4 separate regions of the Homo sapiens genome follow, and regions 2, 3 and 4 are each linked to region 1. The links come from fine-mapping of genetic effects on gene expression. A gene starts in region 1. Each other region holds a variant in brackets. All regions are shown on one strand. Distances are from middle to middle.

Region 1 (5,367 bases):
TGATACTGAAAAGGAATAGCACTTCCAAGTAAATATATTTTGTATGATTTTAAATATATATCTAACCAAAATAGTAAATAACTATAGGTAGACTATTTGATCTATATTTCATAACCTTTTATATTCGAGTTGGCAAAAACAAAAACAAAAAAAAACACCTTTTCTGAGGACCTTTTCATTAATGTTATCTTATTTTCGGGCACTTACAGTATTTCCCCAAGTTCATAAGCAAACACAACATGTCAGTGTTAGTAGACCACTCTCTTTTTATATTTGCATTTATGCCTGTCCCCTGGGGGCATCTAAGCCTGTGACCCTTGGACCCAGCCCACCCAGACAGGAACTCCCCTACTCACCTTCTCTCATCTTTTGATCTAATTCATCCAGTGTTGGCTCAATCAACTCCCAGCCATCTGGGGGTGCTTTCCGGCTTCTTTTGACTTTAGGCATTTTCCTTCCACAGGATAATCTGCAAAGATCTGGGGGAAAAAAATGAATTGGTTTCTGAGTCTCAAATCCCCAAAGGCCTTTGCCAGCCATTATTTCGGTACAGGCTGACTTCCTTGAGTCAGCATAGGGTCACAGCTATGGGACAGGGCTCAGCACCCAGACTGTGTTCAAATCCTGGCTCTGCTACTTACCCGCTGTGATCTTCAGAAAGGTACTTAACCTTCCTAAGCCTCTGTTTCCTCATCTGTAAAATGGGGATAATGGAAGCTACCTTATGTGGTCATTGCAAAGACTTCATTAGAATTGTATCTATCATGCCTGGTGTATAATGTGTGCCTAAGAGACATTTGCTGTTGTCATTAGCTAACTTCAACTAAAAGCTTAACCCTATACTGGATGTTGGGAACACAGAACAAAAGTTAAGCCTTTGCCCCTTAGAAGGTGACATTTTAGCAAAGAGACAGACAAGAGAAAAAGCAATTACAATAGAGTATAAGGAGGGCTGTGACTCGGGGAGCCATGGGGGTGAGTATTTAAAAAGGCAAAGATGGAAGGTCAGGCACGGTGGCTCATGCCTGTAATTCTGGTCTTGGCCAGCACCTTGGGAGGCTGAGATGGGAGGATCACTTGAGCCCAGGAATTTGAGACCAGTCTGAGCAATGAGGTGAAACCCTATCTCTACCAAAAAAAAAAAAAAATCAAAAAAATTAACTGAGCATGGTGGTGGGTGCCTGTGGTCTGAGCTACACGGAAGGCTGAGGCAAGAGGATCACTTGAGCCCAGGAGGTTGAAAGTCTTCAGTTAGCCATGTTCACACTACTGCACTCCAGCCTAAGTGACGGAGTGAGACCATGTCTCAATAACAAACAAAACAAAACAAAACATAAAATAAAAAGGGAAAGATGACTGTAAAATCAAAGTACCTTAGGATGTGCTTTCCAAGAGTATAGACAGCAGAAAGATCTCTCGTCTCTGCAGTTGCAGGCTTGGATTCTTGTTCAGCTCTAAAAAATTATTCTGTGACTTTCAGGTCACCTTCCCTCTCTGGTCCTGTTTCTTCTGTAAAATGAGGGCAGTGGATTGGCTGATTGCCAAGGTCTCTTTCACACCAAACAACATATTACATAAAGTCAGGTAGTTCCCATACAAGAGGCCGATCCCAATCTAAATAGCAAAGCGTTTTTCAAACCACACAGCATTTCCTTGCTGCCAGAGAGAACCCAGGTTAAGTATTTACCTTTCAGCATAACAGATTCATCTCTCTCAAATTCATTCAGTCACTCCCTTCTGTACTGACACTTTACAAAGACCCACCCCCCCCCCGCCCACAGAGCCTCCTCTCATGAACTCTCTAAAACAACCATATAGAGGAGGAATCAAACTCTATAAGGTAGAATCAGGGTCACACAGCTGAGAATTTGCAAAACCTGACTCTGGAGGGCTCCTGACTCCCAAATCAGTGGTCTTCGCACTAGTCTCCCCTACGCTGAAGCTAAAAATAGGTGAATTCTGGTCTCGGCCCCAAGGCGCATAGTCTGTGACAAGAGAATGATCGCTTTTCTACGACCCAGGGAAATTCGAGGGCCCTGATCCAGCCTGGAAGTCAGAAGAGGCCTCTCGGAGGTGAAAATGGTAGGCGGTAACCAGATCGAGGAGAAAGAGGACGTAGGAGGTAATCAGATCGAGAAGAAAGATGTGCCGGGAGGTGTAAGAGAGATTGGGGCGCTAGGGGAAGGAGGCGAGGAGGAGCGAAGGAAGATAGTGCAGGATTGTAGGGAAAACTCATAAAAAGGACAGCATCTGAACCCAGCTTAGAAAAACAATCAGAACACAGAAGACGTTCCTACCAGAGGAAACGGCGCGAGAATCCTAGAGGAAAACCCCCAAATCTACCGTCCCCTCAGAAGAACGAACGTGGCGCCGCCTCCTCTCGGGAGCTCTCTCCGGCCTCAAGGTCCAAAGCCCGAACACATCCCAGTGGCTGGCTGAGAGTCCAGCCACTCATATCTCCCTCCAGGACGGTGCAGACCACCGGTCTCCCGCCTCAGCCGTTGCCAAGGTAATCGAGAACAGAGGGAAAACACATACCGGAAGCTCCTGGAGCTTGGGTAGCTGCTTCTCGACAGAAGGCTTCCGCTCTTCAGGCGATCTCTAAGGCATGAGGTCCTTGCGGAGCCCCGCCCTACCCGCGCGGAGATTGCGTCATCTTAGGTGTCCTCAGCAATGCCTGTATAGAATTCCAGAGCCGCTGTTGCCATTTGCCCTCACTTCCGGTGGGTGGCAGGCAGGGCCACGCGTCTTCCCGAACGGAGAGACTAGGGGCGTTGTTGCCTGGCAGCAGACGGGCAAGCCTGGACTTAGGCGGCGCGCAGGACGGTCCGACTTCGTGCGGAGGCCTCCCTGAGGTCCGGGTCCTTGCGGCCACTGCGGCCACTGAAGCGGCGGCGGCGGCTGGCCCAGGAGGAAGAAGTCGAGCCCAAGCTATTTCCGGTTCCGGTGTCAGTTCGAGGCGCCGCCGCCGCCGCCGCAGCCGCCGGAGCCGCAATGCCTAAAGGAGGTGAGGGGCGGGCGCCGGTGGCCCGCAGGCCTGGAGGGGCGGCCCAGGTCCGGCTTCCGCTGTCCCCTCAGCCCGTGCGCGTCTCTGAGAGCAGCGCAGAGGGAGGCTGTCCGCACCGGCTGAGAGCCAGGCCTGGGCCTCGACGCCCAATTGTCCCGATGGGGAAACTGAGGACTGTGGTGTCCCAGAGTCACTCCGTCAGTGGTCTGAGGAGTTTCGGAAGCTCTGGGTCCTCGCCGGCCTAGAAAGCCGGATCTAGGATGCGCTTCTCCGGGTCTAGGGGTTCTGGAATTTATCCCACTCTTTGGCTGGCTAGGAACTGAGTCACCGCGTCCCGCGCTTGTGCCGGGCCCGCCTGCCTCTCGCGTAAAACGTGGGCTTTTTCTGGCTTCGGTTCAGCCAGGCCTGCCTAGGAGGACTTAAGGAGATGCCCATGAGCCTTCCAGACCTGGTTTCGACTCCCCCGTTCGGTAGCGGCTCGGTGTGTTCCTTTGAGCCAGTCGCTCCACCTCCTGTGTCTCCGTTTTCTCATTTGCCAATGGGAATAACGATTGTACCTACCTCTTAGTACTGTTGGGAGGCTTCAACTAGGTAATCCACGTGGAGTGCGCAGTACAGTGCCAGGCAGTCGTTAAAAGTGCCCAGTGAAGCAGTAACTATTCTTATTTTTAAGGCTTTGCCAGCTCTTGATCTTGTAAGTAGGTTCATGACTGCCCAGTCCATTGTAGCCCGTCCTCTATCTTCTAGCCCGTTCTCTATCCTGTTTCCCCCTTTAGAATCGATAGTCCCCAGTTTGAATCCCAGCTATGTCACGTCTAATTCTGTGGCCCTGAACAAGTTAACCTCTTCCTCATCTGAAACACTGGGCTAATCCTTAGCTTGTTGAATTGGGGCCGGGGTGGTAAAATTATAGCGCTCATAAAGTGCCTGGCCACCTCCTGGCACAGAACAAATATATTTGTGTTGGTAGCTCATGTGTTATATTGGTTAATGCACTCAACCCACAGAAACATCTGCCTGTAGCGTTTTCAAACCTAAATCGCTTCCTGACTCCAGAGATAATTGGGCATTACAGAGCTAAATGTGTTTAAACCTAGCTCTCTACTGATTTATTCTGTGGCTGGAAAAGTCTCTCTGCTATTGTTCCCCAGTCCCTTCATCTGTAAAAGGAGGTTGCTGAATGAGCCATCCTCCCTCCGAAGTTTTACTTAATGGATACTTTGGGTAAAGGTTGGAGGTTACAACGATAAAACCTTAAATATGAATTCATAGCTAAATGGTCTTTGGGCTTGTGAAAAGCTTTTTGGGGTAGACAAGGTTTACATTTTCTTGGGTTAATCTGAAAACCACAAAAAACCGTGAAGGTGTTAAAAGTATCAAACTCCCTAAGAGCAAAGGACCAACGCTTGTTTCCATTATGTTAAGTGCAAATCGTTTTTTAAAGTCTTGAAGAGTCTACTATAAAATTACTGTGGACCAAGCTAAGGTCAGGGTCCCATAGCCAAGTGCATGAGAGGAGAGCCTATAGTAATCAATTTTGAGTTGTTACTGTTGCCTGGTGTATTAAGAGAGCAAGAAAGGGTGTTGGTTTTTTTCTTGGCACACTTGCTCTCTCACAATAGGACTTTAATAAGCATAGACTTAGACACCCCTGGGAACCTAGGTAGTCATTAAAAATGGGTGGTGTGATCTTTAGCAGCCCAATTATGGCTTTGCAGCTGCTGTAAGGAATCAGAGGAGGCCAGTATCTCTGCTACCGCCTCTGGAGTGCAGAGCAACTCTGGCTGATTACAGAGTCTCTGCTCACAGAGACAGACTATGGAAATCAGGTGGGCCTCAGCTTCCTGTGTGGAAGTTGAGGCCACAGCCACCCTTGCATACTTGGGGACCAGCAGAGGGGGATGCCACCTTGCTTTAAAACTGGCTGATGGCTTAAGCAAGGGTCAGCCTGGTGTTCTGGCTGAAGAGGGTCAGACTATAAAACTGACACTTTAACTGCTAGTCACATTTTTAACTTTTAGACTGTGTAGTCAGGTTTGTTTTCATCTGTACTTTGCCAGTCATTTCTTAGTCTAAGCACAAAGTTTTTGCCTGTAGGTTTGGGTTTCTTTTTTTTCCCTTAAGTATTCTCTTTTTGCCATACTACTAAGGTGAACACAAGGTATTTTATTGTGTTTCCAACATCTGCAGTAAATTGCTTATGTGCTCAGTGGTGCTTTTGTTGTTGTTTTTCCACCAAATACTAGATTAGAGGGAAAAGTAACGAACAGCGATTTTTTTATTTTTTTGAGACGGAGTCTCGCTCTGTGGCCCAGGCTGGAGTGCAGTGGCTCAATCTCGGCTACTGCAACCTCTGCCTC
Region 2 (5,000 bases), 21 kb after region 1:
ACAGGTGCCTGGGCATGGTGGCTGAAGCTTGTAATCCCAGCACTTTGGGAGGCTGAGGCAGATGCATCACTTGAAGTCAGGGGTTCGAGACCAGTCTGGCCAACATGGTGAAAACCCGTCTCTACATTTAAAAATACAAAAATTAGCCGGGCATGGTGGCATGCGCCTGTAGTTCCAGCTACTCAGGAGGCTAAGGCAGGAGAATCGCTTGATCGCTTGAACTCAGCAGGCGGAGGTTGCAGTGAGTCAATATCACGCCACTGCACTCCAGCCTGGGCGAAAGAGCGAGAGTCCGTCTCCAAAAAAAAAAAAAAAATCCTGTCTAGCTGGGCGTGGTAGTCTTGCTTGGGAGGCTGAGAAGCAAGAGGATCGCTTGAGTCCAGGATTTGGAGGCTGCAGTGAGCTATGATTGCACTACTGCATTCCAGCCCGGGCAACAGAGCAAGCCCCTAGCTCAAAAAAAATAAAAGAGGTGGGCAGAGGCCCATCCAGCTGAGACATGAAGGGTTCCCCAGGAACTAGAACCTTCAACCGACGCCCAGGTCATCCACTGGTAGCAGGTCTGGAATGTGTCTAGAAGCTGGGGTGTAGAGCTTTCAGGTGCGGCTCCCCGCTATGATGTCAGCAGTCAGTTGACGTCAGCCCCGCCCTCCCCCATGGCGCCCTGTCTCACCGACACTTGAAGTCACAGGAGCCGGCAGCCAGCAGCACATTGTTGGGGTGCCAGTCCAGGCTGAGGACGGTGGAGCGGATGGGCTTCTTGATGTGCTTGCAAACCCACCTGGGAACGGTGGTCAGGCAGACAGGGAGAGAGGGACAGGCAGGTGGGACTCATGGACCTCAGCACCAGGGACTCCAGGCTCCCACTGCTCCCTGCAGCCCACCAAAGACCCAGGAGAGAGGCGACTGGGCATTGCCAGCCCACAAGGCCGTCAGGGCCCTGGGGCGGCAGGGATGTGCTGTGTCGCTTCTGGAGTGGGAACTCTGTGCCCTCTATCCTTTAGGCCACACAGTCACCCTCAGAGCAGGCTCAGCAAAGTGATGCCATCACCAGAGGTCACACAACTACTAACTGGCCATGGTGGGATGCAAATTTGGGTCTCTCAGATGCTCCTGGCTGGCCTCTGCCCTCAGCCATGCAGGGGAGATTAAAAACTAAGACGTGGACTGGCAATCATGGCTCACACCTGTAGTCTCAGCACTTTGGGAGGCTGAGGTGGGAAGATTGCTTGAGGCCAGGAGTTCAAGACCAGCCTGGACAACGTGACAAGACCCTATCTCTACAAAATAAATAAATAAATGATTTGGGCCTGTAGTCCGAGCTACTCAGGAGGCTGAAGTGGTAGGATTACTTGAGCTCAGGAGGCTGAGGCTGCAGTGAGCTATGATCACAACACTGCACTCCAGCCTGAGCGACAGAGCAAGACCTTGTCTCAAAAATATATATATGGCCGGGCGCAGTGGTTCACGCCTGTAATCCCAGCACTTTGGGAGGCGGAGGCAGGAGGACCACCTGAGGTCAGGAGTTCAAGACCAGCCTGACCAACATGGAGAAACCCCATCTCTACTAAAAAATACAAAATTAGCCTGGCGTGGTGGTGCGTGCCTGTAGTCCCAGCTACTCAGTAGGCTGAGGCAGGAGAATTGCTTGAACCTGGGAGGCAGAGGTTGCGGTGAGCTGAGATTGTGCCACTGCACTCCAGCCTGGACGACAGAGCAAGACTGTGTCTCAAAAAAAAAAAAAAAAAAAAAATTGGCTGGGCACGGTGGCTCACGCCTGTAATCCCAACACTTTGGGAGGCCGAGGCGGGTGGATCATGAGGTCAGAAGTTCTAGACCAACCTGGCCAAGATGGTGAAACCCCATCTCTACTAAAAATATAAAAATTATCCGGGCATGGTAGCAGGTGCCTGTAATCCCAGCTACTTGGGAGGCTGAGGCAGAGAACTGCTCGAACCCGGCAGGCAGAGGCTGCCGTGAGCCAAGATCGTGCCACTGCACTCCAGCCTGGGTGACAGAGTGAGACTCCATCTGAAAAAAAAAAAAGGAACAAGATGTGGCTGCGAGCTCGTGAGTGGTGCCTTGAGAAAGTGACTGCTACAGGGCCTTTGCTAATCTGTAAAGTGGGGACAGTGACCGATGCCCAGTCCACGGAGCTGCAGGGAAGTCAGGACTAATGTGTGTGCAGGGCTTAGTGAGGTGCCCCCAGATGTGTTTCTGGTGTGGTGGGTGTCACTGGCAGTGAGAACATCCGGACGCTGCAGAGAGGCCCTTGCCTCATGAATGAGGCCCAGAGAGGAGAGGATGGACTCCCCCAGGGTGATGGGAACAGGGGTCCTGACATCCCATTTGGTGCTTCCCGGGGACACTCTAGTCCTGCCCCCGGTCCCTAACAGCCCACTCTGGCCCTGCCTAGGTACCCACCAGTCATTCTCCTGCTCGAAATAACAGATGGAGATCACACGAGAGCCGCTGCCCACAGCAAACTTGTTCTCGTTGGGGGCCCAGCGCACGCAGCGGGCAGCCCGGTTGATCCGCAGGATGACCAGCGTGGGCTTCCATGTGCGGCCCTTCAGCGTCCACACGTAGGCGTTGCGGTCTGTGCCGCAGGTCACAATACGGTTACTCTCGGGGGCCCAGTCGATGCCTGTGGGGGGATGGAGGGAACACAGGAGGCTGATGACACTCAGGCAGAGGTGGCTGTATGGTGGCCACATGGGAGAGGCTGAAAGGCCACCATCCAGGTGGAAGCTGTATCTGCCCAGCAGGCACTTTTTTTTTTTTTTGAAACAGAGTCTCGCTCTGTCACCCAGGCTGGAGTGCAGTGGCATGATCTCAGCTCACTGCAGCCTCTGCCTCCCAGGTTCAAGCAATCCTCGTGCCTCAGCCTCCTGAGTAGCCGGGACTACAGG[T/C]GTGTACCACCAATCTTTTTTTTTTTTTTTTTTTTTTGAGACAGAGTCTCGCTCAGCCGCCCAAGCTGGAGTGCACTGGCACGATCTCAGCTCACTGGAACCACCATCTTCCGGGTTCAAGCAATTCTCACATATCAGCCTCCCAAGTAGCTGGGATTACAGGCACCCGCCATCATGCCTGGCTAATTTTTGTATTTTAGTAGAGATGAGGTTTCACCATGTTGACCAGGCTGGTCTTGAACTCCTGACCTCAGGTGATCCGCCCGCCTCCGCCTCCCAAAGTGCTGGGAGTACAGGCGCAAGCCACCGCACCCGGCCTCTTTCTTTCTTTGTTTTTATTGCGACACAGTCTCGCTCTGCCATCCAGGCTGGAGTGCAGTGGTGCAATCTCAGCTCACTTCAACCTCCGCCTCCTGGGTTCAAGCGATTCTTCTGCCTCAGCCTCCAGAGTATCTGGGACTACAGGTGCGTGCCACCACACCCGGCTAATTTCTGTATTTTTCAACATTTAGTCATGTTGGCCAGGATGGTCTCGAACTCCTGACCTCAAGCGATCCACTCGCCTTGGCCTCCTGAAGTGCTGGGATTACAGGCATGAGCCACTGCACCCGGCCCAGCAAGCACTTTTTACTGAGATCCAGTGCTTATTTAGAGTGACACCAGGGGGCACTCCTAGAGCTTATGAGGGAGTGTCAGAGCCCTCCATGCTATCAGCAAACATGCTGGAGGGCAAAGCCAAGAGGCAGAAAAGATGGGTTCTTGGTCATGTGGAGCTGCTGGATCAAGCCTCTCCTGAAGCCCTCAACCCTGTGAGTTTTTGGTAACATGAGCCAACACAGTCCCCTTAAAATTGAAGCCAGTTTGAATCCGGGTTTCACGGTGAGTGGGCAGATGCTCCACAATGAGTGGCCATGCCCTGCCTTGCACCACCCCCCCAACCCACCACCTCCTTTCAGGACGGTGGTCCCAGCCACCCTGACATACCTGTCACCTGCCCGTTGTGCTCCTTGAGCTCGTGCACCTTGGTCCATTTGGCACCGCTCTTTTCATAGATATGCACCTCATGGTTGTTGGGGCAGATGGCAATCTCTGAAGGGGAGATGGAGGGAGATTGAGGGGCCCTCTCCATGACTGCCCTCTGCCAGGACACACTACACAGTGCACCTAGGCAACAACACCTCACCTTTCATGACTCAGTCTCTCCTCTTCTGCCTTGCAGGGGCCCCCTGAAGTCCTTCAGGCCCTGCTAGGCCACCCTGTCTTCTCCTGGAACTGGCTGTCCTTTACTCGCAGCAATGAACCCTGGGACCTCTCCCCACCCTATTGCTCTGGCCAACCAGGAACCCTTCGCTGCTCCTGCTGACACCTCAGGGCCCCTGCACCTGCCAGCCCCTCCCCAGCTGGGGCACAGTTCCCTTCCTCTCCCCCTCTGGGTCTCTGGGTAAATGTCAAAATGTCATCTCCTCCGAAAGGCTTTTTCTTGGTCACTTTTTCTTTCTTTCTTTCTCTCTTTTTTTTTTTTTGAGACAGAGTCTCGCTTTGTTGCCCAGGCTGGAGTGCAGTGGTGCAATCTCGACTCACTGCAACCTCCGCCTCCTGGGTTCAAGCAATTCTCGTGCCTCAGCCCCCCGAGTAGCTGGGATTACAGACACCCACCACCACGCCCAGGTAATTTTTGTATTTTTAGTAGAGACAGGGTTTCACCATGTTGCCCAAGCTGGTCTGGAACTCCTGACCTCAAGTGATCCACCCACCTCAGCCTCCCAAAGTGCCGGGATTACAGGCATGAGCTACCGCAACTGGCCCATTCCCTCCTTAAACTTTAACCCAGGAGGCCCCTGGTCAGCTGGAAGACCCAGGGGTGAGGCCAGGGGACAGCCACATGGAGCCCATGGTCCGGGGGCCTGGCTGCTCCAGAGTCCCCATGTGTGCTCTGGCTGGTCCCCATCCCAGGAGGTGGAAGCAGCCACCCACCGGCCCCCAGCAAGCACTCACGGGTGCGGTCCTTGTTCCAGGCGTGGCAGCTGATGGGCTCCACCAGGAAGCTGTGGTAGGCCATGGCGGCTTGGCTCCTGTGCCCGAGAGAGG
Region 3 (5,367 bases), 69 kb after region 1:
ATGAAATCCTCCTACCTCAGCCTCCTGAGTAGCTGAGACTACAGGTGCAAGCCACCATGCCTGGCTAATTTTTTGTAGAGATGGGGTTTCACCATGTTGCCCAGGCTGGTCTTGAACTCCAGGGCTCAAGTGATCTGCCTGCCTCAGCCTCCCAAAGCACTGGGATTACAGGTGTAAGCCTGATCAATATTTATTATTATTAAAAAGAAAAATCATTATCTTTTAGAGATGCAAACTGAAATATGAAACAATATAATGTCTGGGATGTGCTTCAAATTAGTACAGGAAAGGAGAAAGTGAATTGAGAAGAACAAGATTGGCTGTTACTCGATAATCGTGGAATGCAGGTGATGGGTATAAAAGGCTCATTATACTATTCCACTTTTTTAAAAATCTGTTTAAAATTTTCCATGGTAACAAAACATGTTTCTTAAAAATATTTAATACAAAAGAATAAAACCTCAGAACTCTGATATCCCTGATGTTTGCCACACTTCTTTTCTTTGTAGTATGGACTAGTTTTTTCTTCTAGAATGCTTCAGAAAATATTTTTTTCCCCTAAAATTACTATCTTTCTGAGAAAATATGTCTGATCCTTGATCTCCTGCCCCAGAGTTATATTTAGATTTTTCCAACAAGTTATTTCAGATCTAAAAAATGCCATGTGAGCAGCTAGACAGAAAACAGGCCCAAGTTCAAAGGACCCCAAAAGAGAAGTAGAGGGAAAAAAACACATAACTAAATATTTCACATTTTTGGCGATTTCTTTGGTCTTTCATCTTTGCCTTTTCTCATTTAAAAGTATTTCCTTTTAAATTCTAAAATTCCAATTAATTTTTTTTTTTTTTTTTTTTGAGACAGAGTTTTGCTCTTATTGTCCAGGCTGGCGTGCAATGGCACAATCTCGGCTCACCGTAACCTCCGCCTCCCAGGTTCAAGCAATTCTCCTGCCTCAGCCTCCTGAGTAGCTGGGATTACAGGCATGTGCCACCACGCCCAGCTAATTTTGTGTATTTTTAGTAGAAATGGGGTTTCTCCATGTTGGTCACGCTGGTCTCGAACTCCCGACCTCAGGTGATCAGCCCGCCTCAGCCTCCCAAAGGGCTGGGATTACAGGCTTGAGCCACTGCACCCAGCCTAATTTTTTATTTTTTGGAGACAGAGTCTTGCTGTATACCCCAGGCTGGAGTGCAGTGGCGCCATCTCAGCTCACCGCAACCTCTGCCTCCTGGGTTCAAGCGATTCTCATGTCTCAGCCTCCTGAGTAGCTGGGATTACAGGTGCTTGCCACCACACCCGGCTAATTTTTGTATTTTTAGTAGAGACAGGGTTTCACCATGTTGGCCAGGTTGGTCTCAAACTCCCGACCTCAGGTGATCCACCCGCCTCAGCCTCCTAAAGTGTTGGGATTACAGGTGTGAGCCACCGCACCCGGCCTAAAATTCCAATTTAAAATATGAGTATTCTTATTCTTAGGCTATGAGGCCACTGGCAAAGGAACTTAAGAAAATAGGCCAAACCTAATAGAAATAAGATTGTGGGAAAGGAACAGCAACAAAAATAGAAACGCTGTCTTTGGTGCTGCTTTGGAAATATACTCAGCTACTGGTGCTCAAGAGCATTATTTATAAATCACTGGTCAAAGCAAGGGTGGCCATGAGTTATTGCTGAAGAATGCAGGACAACTTCTGTAAAGGATGTAGAATAGCAAAACATGCTAAGTTCTCTCATTTGGGTAAGGATATCTCTAAGCTTATCAGTATTTTAGGTGATTAGAGGTAAAATTGCAGAGTCCAACTAAAAGAATAAAAAATCAGCCTGGGCGACATGGTGAAATCTATCTTTACAAAAAAATTAGCCGGGTGTGCTGGCGCACACCTTTAGTACCAGCTCCTGGGGAGGCTGAGATGGGAGGATCACTTGAGCCCAAGAGGTTGAGGCTGTAGTGAGCCATGATCCTTCTAGCCTGGGTGACTGGGCAACAGAGCCAAGACCCTGTCTAAAAGAAAAAAAAGGGTCACACCTGTAATCTCAACACTTTGGGAGGCCAAGGCAGGCAGATCACTTGATGTCAGGAGCTTGAGACCAGCCTGTCCAATGTGGTGAAATCCCACATCTACTAAAAATACAAAAATTAGCTGGGCATTGTGGCAGGCACCTGTAATCCCAGCAACTCGGGAGGCTGAGGCGGGAGAATTGCTTGAACCTGGAAGGCAGAGGCTGCAGTCAGCCAAGACTGTACCACTCCATTTCAGCCTAGACGACAGAATGACACTCCATCTCAAAACAAACAAACAAACAAACAAACAAA[CAAAA/A]ACAGAAAAAAGACAAAAACTCAATGAAAAAATGATCAGGATTTATGAACAGGACAGTCACAAGGAAGAAAAACTCTCATGGCTAATACACGTCTGAAAGTATCTCAACTTTTCCATGAATCAGGAAAATACAACTTACAGAAGCAATGGATGAACCTTTCATGCATTCTTCAGTCTTCCCATCTCAAGTATGTGGCGGGGTGTGGGAAAATGAGCACTCTCATACAGGACAGGTGGGAATGATGGCAATCTGATGAGGCCTGGCAACACTGCACTGCAGATATGCATACCCTGTGGTATTAACACATCTACCATCTACAAACATTCACACATACGTACAGAAATCAAGGGATGCCTATTCAGCACTTTCATGTAATATGGAAAAATTGAAACAACCTAAATGTTCTTCAGTGGAGGAAGGAGTAAATAAATGAGGTATAAAATGCTAAAGAGTGGTTAAAAGGAATAAACTTGATCTAGACAGCAACATAGATGGATCTCAGAAACAATCATGAATGCAAAAGCAGGCTGCCGGAGATGCATAGTATCATGCCATTTATGTAGCTTCAAAAAAATACTAGTCAATAGTCCTAAAGATTGTTTTCTCTTTTTTCTTTTTTTTGAGATGAGGGTCTTGCTGTGTCACCCAGGCTGGAGTGCAGTGGTGTGATCACAGCTCACTGCAGCCTTGATCTTGTCTCAAGTGGTCCTCCCACTTCAGCCTCACAAGTAGCTGGGACCACAGGTGCATGCCACCACACCGTGCTAACGGGGGGTCTCATTATGTTGCCCAGGCTAGTCTTGGATTCCTGGGTTCAAGCGATCCTCCCGCCTCAGCCTCCCAAAGTGCTGGGATTACAGGTGTAAGCCACTGTGCTTGGCCTAAGCTTGTTTATGAATATGTATGTATGTAAATGTATTAAAAATGGACTGGAATGGTGTCATAGCAAATTATAGTCTGCCTTCCAGGGGAGAGGAATAGGACTGCTGGTGAGAGGTGACTTTACCATCATCAAGAATAATATTCCTTATTATTACATCCTTTTTCCTTAAGTTTCCTGATACAGGAAAAGAAATTACTTCCTGGCACAGGGAAAAAGTTGGTAATTCTGGTGGCGATTATCTGATATGGGTGTTTATTATATTACTTTGTTCTTCTCAATATTCTGGAAAGTCTTCCTTACCCTAAAAACACAAAGGAAACTTTTGGAAGACACTTGGAAATAGTTTGGCGCACGTTTTCGTGTTGTCTACATTTTCATGTTATCTAGCTTTCAATTTCACGTCTCATCTCCTAATTTTAGCTCTTTAGTCCTCAGGGTAGGTTCAGTGCTTTCCATAGCAACGGTAGAGTGCTGGGTACCAGCTGGGGCCACAAGAAGCACTTAACAACTAAGATCATTATAGTATTTTCTTTAAAATTTTAAGGAAATTCAGTAAGTGCTGCATGACTTTAAATATTACGGGCCAGGTGCGGTAGCTCACTCCTGTAATCCCAGCACATTGGGAGGCCGAGGCAGGAGGATCACGAGGTCAGGGGTTCGAGACCAGCTTGACCAACATGGTGAAACCTATCTCTACTAAAAATAAAAAAAATTAGCCAGGCATAGTGGCGCGTGCCTGTAATCCCAGCTACTCAGGAAGCTGAGGCAGGAAAATTACTTGAACCCGGGAGGTGGAGGTTGCAGTGAGCCGAGATTGCGCCATTGCAGTCCAGCCTGGGCGAAAGAGTGATACTCCTTCTCAAAAAAAAAAAAAAAAAAAAAAAAATTATGGCCACCTGGGTTTATTAGGCTCTTTATCTAAAAGGAAGAGTGCCTGATTTGGAAATATCACACTAAGCTCACGGCTATCTTCCTTTACCTGTGATGTGTCCGTTGTGCTCCTTGAGTTCATGAGCTTTCACCCACTGGCTCCCGTTCTTCTTATAGATGTGCACTTCGTGATTATTGGGACTGAGGGCAATCTCTGGAGACACAAGTCAAACAACAGTTAACACCTGAACTTGCAATTGTCACCAAAAAGGGGACATGTCACAGTTGTTTTAAAAGCAGACTATAGTAAGGAAAAGAAAAACTTTTGAAAAAGTAGTTCCCAAATTCACCTCTGAATAATTCCATTTTTTTTTTAACCTTTACTTGGACCCTGTATTTTATAATGCTTTACAGGAAAACTAAGATTAAAATTCATTTTCCCAGAGACACGTACAACTGTCAATTAATGATTCTAACCAGCGAAAAATAAACAATGTTAGTGTACTTAGCTAAAATAACTTTAGATCAGGGTAAAAATGTTTGACAGTTTCATTCACCTGTGCAATATTATTAGAGCTAAATCTAAATTTCTGTTTGTCTTTTTGAAACACTGAAAATAGGTTATGGACTTCCATTACTGCTATCATGGACCCAGGCTGGAACCACTAGTTTATATTAAAAAAATTGATTCTGCTGATAAACTATACTGAAATTCTCCTTTACAATAAAGCCAATATAAATCACAATACTTTGTTTTCAAGAGTAATTTCCTGAACTAATCCAAAATATAATACACAAAACGGACTTTTTAAAAACTCATACAGGTTGAGCATCCCTAATCTGAAAAGCTGAAATCTGACATGCTCCCAAATCCAAAACTTTTTGAGTATCAACATGACACTCAAAAGGTCATGCTCAAACGCAATGCTCTCTGGAACATTTTGGATTTCAGATTTTCATTTTTTTCTTTTTTGAGATAGTGTTTTGCTCTCGTTGCCCAGGCTGGAGTGCAATGGCGCGATCTTGGCTTACTGCAACCTCCGCCTCCCAGGTTCAAGCGATTCTCCTGCCTTAGCCTCCGAAGTAGCTGGGATTACAGGCATGCGCCACCACGCCCAGCTAATTTTGTATTTTTAGTAGAGACAGGGTTTCTCCATGTTGGTCAGGCTGGTTTCAAACTCCCGACCTCAGGTAATCTGCCTGCCTTGGCCTCCCAAGGTGCTGGGATTACCAGCATGAGCCACCAGGCTCAGCTGGATTTCAAATTTTCAGTGCTCAAATCGTATATATTATGCAAA
Region 4 (5,367 bases), 51 kb after region 1:
GTGTACCACCATGCCAAGCTAATTTTTGTATTTTTTAGTAGAGATGGGGTTTTGCCATGTTGGCAAGGCTGGTCTCGAACTCCTGACCTCAAGTGATCTGCCTGCCTCAGCCTCCCAAAGTGCTGGGATTAAAGGTGTAAGCCATCATGCCCAGCCTCTCCTCTAGACCTTAAAAATCAAACTTTCAGGCCAGGCACGGTAGCTTACGCCTGTAATTCCAGCAATTTGGGAGGCTGAGGTGGTTGGATCACCTGAGGTCAGGAGTTTGAAACCAGGATGGCCAACAGGGTGAAACTCCGTCTCTACTAAAAATACAAAAAATTAGCCAGGTGTGGTGGCACACGCCTGTAATCCCAGCTTCTTGGGAAGCTGAGGCAGGAGAATTGCTTGAACCCGGGAGGCAGAGGTTGCAGTGAGCCGAGATTGTGGCATTGCACTCCAGCCTGGGCAACAGAGTGAGACTCTGTCTCAAAAAAAAAAAAAAAAATTAAACTTTCTGGACAAAACACAATTCTGTTGTCTTACATAATTACATATACCTGATGAAAACCCAGTCGAGACACTCCTCAGCTTTGTCATCATGATGATAAGAAATTCTGTTCCTTTAATTAAATAATCTTCTTATTTGTATCCATTACTTGAAACGACAGCTACAGTTACCTTTTCCAACAGGCTGTAACTTCGCTTTCTGTTATGTGTGCACTACTGTGGGAACGCAGCATTCAGGAATGTCTCCTTTTGTTCTCGAGTAGCTGAGAAAGGGTACCCTAGGAAGCAGCTGCCCTGAGGCCCCACCACCTCAGATTGCAACAAGGTCTGCACTGCTCCTGCTGGCTGCTGCCTTGTAATCTGCACCTTGAAGGACAGAATGACCAGGTGGTGGCGACTCCCTCCCTACCACGAGCTGGAAATGAGAGCCTGGCGGTCGGGAAGATACAGACTTCTTGCTGCACTTGTCCCTGAAAGAATGTCTGGGCCTGAGGGGCATAGAGCTTTTGTAGGAACCCAGTAAGGAAACAGCGAGGGGCAGGAAGGCACCTTGTCACCTGACCACCTCTCTACAGACGGCACCTACGTGATGCTATTCTGGTGCAGCGTCTCCAAGGCCGTGTTGCGGTCCTCAGTTGTGGCTCTCTTGTCCATGTTGCGGAAGCGTTCCATGGCAGACATGTTGCGTTGGATGCTCTGTTTTGGAATATCTAACTTGGAGACGAAGGTCAGGCAGCCGCGGTCATCGTAGTTAAAGAGCATTGGGCAGCAGTCATGGCCCTGAAACAAGACTCAGTCAGTCCCTGGAGGATGCACTGCCCACCGCCCACCTCCTTGGCAGAGTGTTCACCACGACAGGCCTCTCTTACTCTTTTTTTTTTTTTTTTTTGAGACCGAGTCTTGCTCTGTTGCCCTGGCTAGAGTGCAGTGGCACAATCTCAGGTCACCACAACCTCTGCTTCCCGGGTTCAAGTAATTCTCCTGCCTCAGCCTCCCAAGTAGCTGGGATTACAGGCGTCTGCCACCATGCCTGGCTAATTTTTGTGTTTTTAGTAGAGACGGGGTTTCACCATGTTGGCCAGGCTGGTCTTGAACTCCTGACCTCAAGTGAACCACCCGCCTTGGCCTCCCAAAGTGCTGGGACTACAGGCGTGAGCCATCGTGCCCCACCCCCTCTTACTCTTAAAAGTGAGCGGCCGGGCACGGTGGCTCACACCTGTAATCCCAGCACTTTAGGAGGCCAAGGTGGGCGGATCACGAGGTCAGGAGATTGAGACCATCCTGGCTAACATGGTGAAACCCCATCTCTACTAAAAATAAAAAAAATTAGCCCGGCGAGGTGGCGGGCGCCTGTAGTCCCAGCTACTCAGGACGCTGAGGCAGGAGAATGGCGTGAACCCGGGAGGCGGAGCTTGCAGTGAGCCAAAATTGCGCCACTGCCCTCCAGCCTGGGCGACAGAGCAAGACAGTCTCCAAAAAAAAAGTGACCTCTGAGGCCGGGCACGGTGGCTCATGCCCGCACTTTGGGAGGCCAAGGTGGGTGGATCACCTGAGGATGGGAGTTCGAGACCGGCCTGACCAACATGGAGAAACCCCGTCTCTTCTAAAAATACAAAATTAGCCAGGTATGGTGGCGCATGCCTATATTCCCAGTTCCTCGAGAGGCTGAGGCGGGAGAATCGCTTGAACCCGGGAGGCAGAGGTTGCGGTGAGTCAAGATCACCCATTGCACTCCAGCCTGGGCAACAAGAGCAAAACTCCATCTCAAAAAAAAAAAAAAAAAAAA[AAG/G]TGAGCTCTGTTTCTTCTAAAAAACTGTTCTGCTTTGTGCTAGGGTGACAGAGCACACATTGTTCCCTGTCTGAGCATCACATACAGTGCACCCCGAGGGAGAATGAAGAAAAATACTCACAGCAGCCACGACGCTGTTCTCTGAGACAAATGACACACTTAGGAGCGGCAGGAACTCTGTCTTCAGAGTCGAGACCCTGAACACAAGAACATGTGTTATCCCAAGATGCAACAGACTATTAGCTTCTTTACAGACACAGATGATCACAAAGGACCCATTCTCACAGGGGCTTCTGCAGTATCAATGGGCACTTATGTTGAAAAGGAGCCCCTGACCTCAACTTGCAGGCCTCTCAAGACAGGGGCAGCCCTGGGTTCCGGCTCTGCCTCCTTCTGAGGCCCTGCCCACTGACGACAAACTGGTTCCCAAAGCCCAGTCTTTGCATCACGCCCTTCCACCCCCAGCACAGCTCTAAAGGGATCACCCCCATGATCCCACGGTCCACTTTCCCGGGCCACTTCCGCCTAAAGTGGCTTCTCCCTGCTCTTAGCTCCTAGAGCTCTTCCTGTTACTATGACTTGGCAGCAGACACCTGTGCTAGGACCTTCTCCTTGCCTGTGCTCACCGGAGCTCCGAGAGGGCTGTGACCACACAGATCTGTGCTGACGGCCAGGCACTGTGTTAGGAGCTAGAGCTACCAAGATGAACCAAACGGTCTTAGCCAGGAGCTCACACTCGAATGGGCCATGTGTGTGTATGTGTGCCTGCAGGGACATGTGTGTGCATGTAGTTATTTGCTCTTGAATGTGGCAAAGAGATTACACAGATATGGCAGGCAGACACACTGGCTGATGAGTTAGGAGCACCTCACTTCATGCAAGAAACGATGCATTCAAAAGCTGACTGTGGCTGGGCATGGTGGCTCACACCTGTAATCTCAGCACTTTGAGGGGCTGAGGTGGAAGGATTGCTGGAGGCAGGAGTTTGAGATCAGCCTGGACAACATAGTGAGACCCAGTCTCTACGAAAAATTAAAAAAAAAAAAAAATTAGCCTAGAGTGGTGGTGCACGTCTGTGGCTCCAGCTGCTTGAGAGGCTGAGGTGGGAGGAGAACTTGAGCTCAGGAGTTCCAGCCTGGGCGACAGAGAGTGTCTCTCTAAATTAAAAAATAAAAAAAAGCTAACTGTATATGTCTCAGGACACCCTTCATAAAGTTGGCATTGAATTGAAGAACTAATGTGTCATCTTAAGCCCTTAGTGCGGTATACCTGACTTTTACTACATGAGATATTTATGTTGGAGGAGTGGAAAGGTGGAGCATGTAATCTGACTTGCAGGACTGGAAAAGGGAAAGAAGTCAGTACGAGGGTAGACAGGGACTTGTAATAAGTGTATGCTAAGAACTTACTGTGTCACAATAAACCATATAAAAATCAAGTAACACTGGCATCAAAATACAAAAGTATTATCAAGTATTAAAAGGCAAATTACCAAATGTATATAAAAATGTATAAAATAATCTTATTTCTGTTAAAAATGAAAAGATATATAAGTGCCTGTTTATGTAGGGAAATCTTCTGAAAGACTACATTTTATAATGGAAGGGACAATCTTTCTTTTTTTCTTTCTTTTTTTTGAGATGGAGTCTCGCTCTGTCGCCCAGCCTAGAGTGCAGTGGCGCAATCTCGGCTCACTGCAAGCTTTGCCTCCCAGGTTCACGCCATTCTCCTGCCTCAGCCTCCCGAGTAGCTGGGACTACAAGCGCCCGCCACCACGCCTGGCTAATTTTTGTATTTTTTGTAGAGACAGGGTTTCACCGTGTTAGCCAGGATGGTCTCGATCTCCTGACCTTGTGATCCGCCCGCCTCGGCCTCCCAAAGTGCTGGGATTACAGGTGTGAGCCACTGTGCCCAGTCTTTTTTTTTTTTTTGAGACAGAGTCTTCCTCTTGTTGCCCAGGCTGGAGTGCAGTGGTGCGATCTTGGCTCATTGCAACCTCTGCCTGCTGGGTTCAAGCAATTCTCCTGCCTCAGCCTCCTGAGTAGCTGGGATTACAGGTGCATGCCACCACACCTGGCTAATTTTTATACTTTTAGTAGAGGCGGGGTTTCTCCATGTTGGCCATGCTGGTCTCGAACTCCTTACCTGAGGTGATCCACCCGCCTCGGCCTCCCAAAGTGCTGGGATTACAGGCGTGAGCCACTGCACCCGGCCTGAGGGGATAATCTTTAAAAAAATATGTAAAACTAGCTAAAAAATGCACATTTAATCCTGTTAGGAAAAACATATCATGTCTGAAATATCATGCTGTTTACACTGGGTGACTCTTACTGACCTGACAGGGAGTAAAGGTCACCCAGTGTGATTGATTTTTGATACCCAAGTGGCCATGTCCATCACAAAACCTTTAATGGTGAGTTCCCTTTAGCTATCAATGGAAAAGGAACACCAGGGAAGAACAAAGATTTATAAAAGAAGAAGGATTCCAATCTTCTCTCTTCCTCCAACATATACTGAACAAAATGAACTCTGATGTCTGGCCAAGTACTTTATGGCTGAACAGACACGCCACTCACAAAGAAGCCACCGTAATTCGAGTCCTTCCAGCCACAGCAGAGAAGTGGCATCAATGCTTTTTAAGCCTTACTGAATGGAAGGCTCAAATTAATGAAGTCATCGTTCGCTGACTTCCCCCAGTAAGAATATATCTCCTATTTAATTTAAGGCCGGTGAACGGCACTTACATTTTGTAAGGAATTCAGAGTAACAGACTAAACTAGCCTTTTTTTTTTTGAGATGGAGTCTTGCTCTGTTGCCCAGGCTGGAGTGCAATGGCATGATCTCGGTTCACTGCAACCTTCACCTCCTGGGTTCAAGTGATTCTCCTTCCTCAGCCTCCCGAGTAGCTGGGACTATAGGCACCCGCCACCATGCTGGGCTAATTTTTGTATTTTTGTAGAGACAGGGTTTCACCATGTTGGCCAGGCTGCTCTCGAACTCCTGACCTCAAGTGATCCACCCACCTTGGCCTCCCAAAGTGCTGGGATTATAGGTGTGAGCCACTGTGCCCAGCTTAAACTGGCCCTTTTT

What was found.
Region 2: its variant is fine-mapped to the expression of PDAP1 in whole blood (TOPMed, PIP 0.91).
Region 3: its variant is fine-mapped to the expression of PDAP1 in whole blood (INTERVAL, PIP above 0.99).
Region 4: its variant is fine-mapped to the expression of PDAP1 in whole blood (INTERVAL, PIP 0.96).

The regions. Positions count from the first base shown.
Region 1 is chr7:99,406,176-99,411,542 of GRCh38, reverse strand. It overlaps PDAP1 (PDGFA associated protein 1), which reads left to right and starts at 2,946. Exons shown (of 6, transcript NM_014891.7): 1 at 2,946-3,007. The coding sequence starts at 2,995. It overlaps BUD31 (BUD31 spliceosome associated protein), which reads right to left and starts at 2,574. Exons shown (of 6, transcript NM_003910.4): 1 at 2,298-2,574; 2 at 1,374-1,509; 3 at 357-479. The coding sequence starts at 450. MIR12119 (microRNA 12119) reads right to left here and starts at 2,371; the gene lies at 2,279-2,371. RefSeq lists an enhancer at 2,518-2,907 and a silencer at 3,118-3,177.
Region 2 is chr7:99,385,686-99,390,685 of GRCh38, reverse strand. It overlaps ARPC1B (actin related protein 2/3 complex subunit 1B), which reads right to left. Exons shown (of 10, transcript NM_005720.4): 2 at 4,908-4,984; 3 at 3,897-4,001; 4 at 2,425-2,647; 5 at 674-781. The coding sequence starts at 4,971. Among named protein-coding and RNA genes, the nearest start is that of ARPC1B, 13 kb to the right of the region's middle. The variant T/C (reference allele first, on the strand shown) is at 2,913.
Region 3 is chr7:99,337,097-99,342,463 of GRCh38, reverse strand. ARPC1A (actin related protein 2/3 complex subunit 1A) reads right to left here. Exons shown (of 10, transcript NM_006409.4): 3 at 4,179-4,283. Among named protein-coding and RNA genes, the nearest start is that of ARPC1A, 14 kb to the right of the region's middle. The variant CAAAA/A (reference allele first, on the strand shown) is at 2,312.
Region 4 is chr7:99,355,447-99,360,813 of GRCh38, reverse strand. ARPC1A (actin related protein 2/3 complex subunit 1A) reads right to left here. Exons shown (of 10, transcript NM_006409.4): 7 at 2,399-2,474; 8 at 1,076-1,269. Among named protein-coding and RNA genes, the nearest start is that of ARPC1B, 17 kb to the left of the region's middle. RefSeq lists enhancers at 638-1,138, 2,332-2,832. The variant AAG/G (reference allele first, on the strand shown) is at 2,276.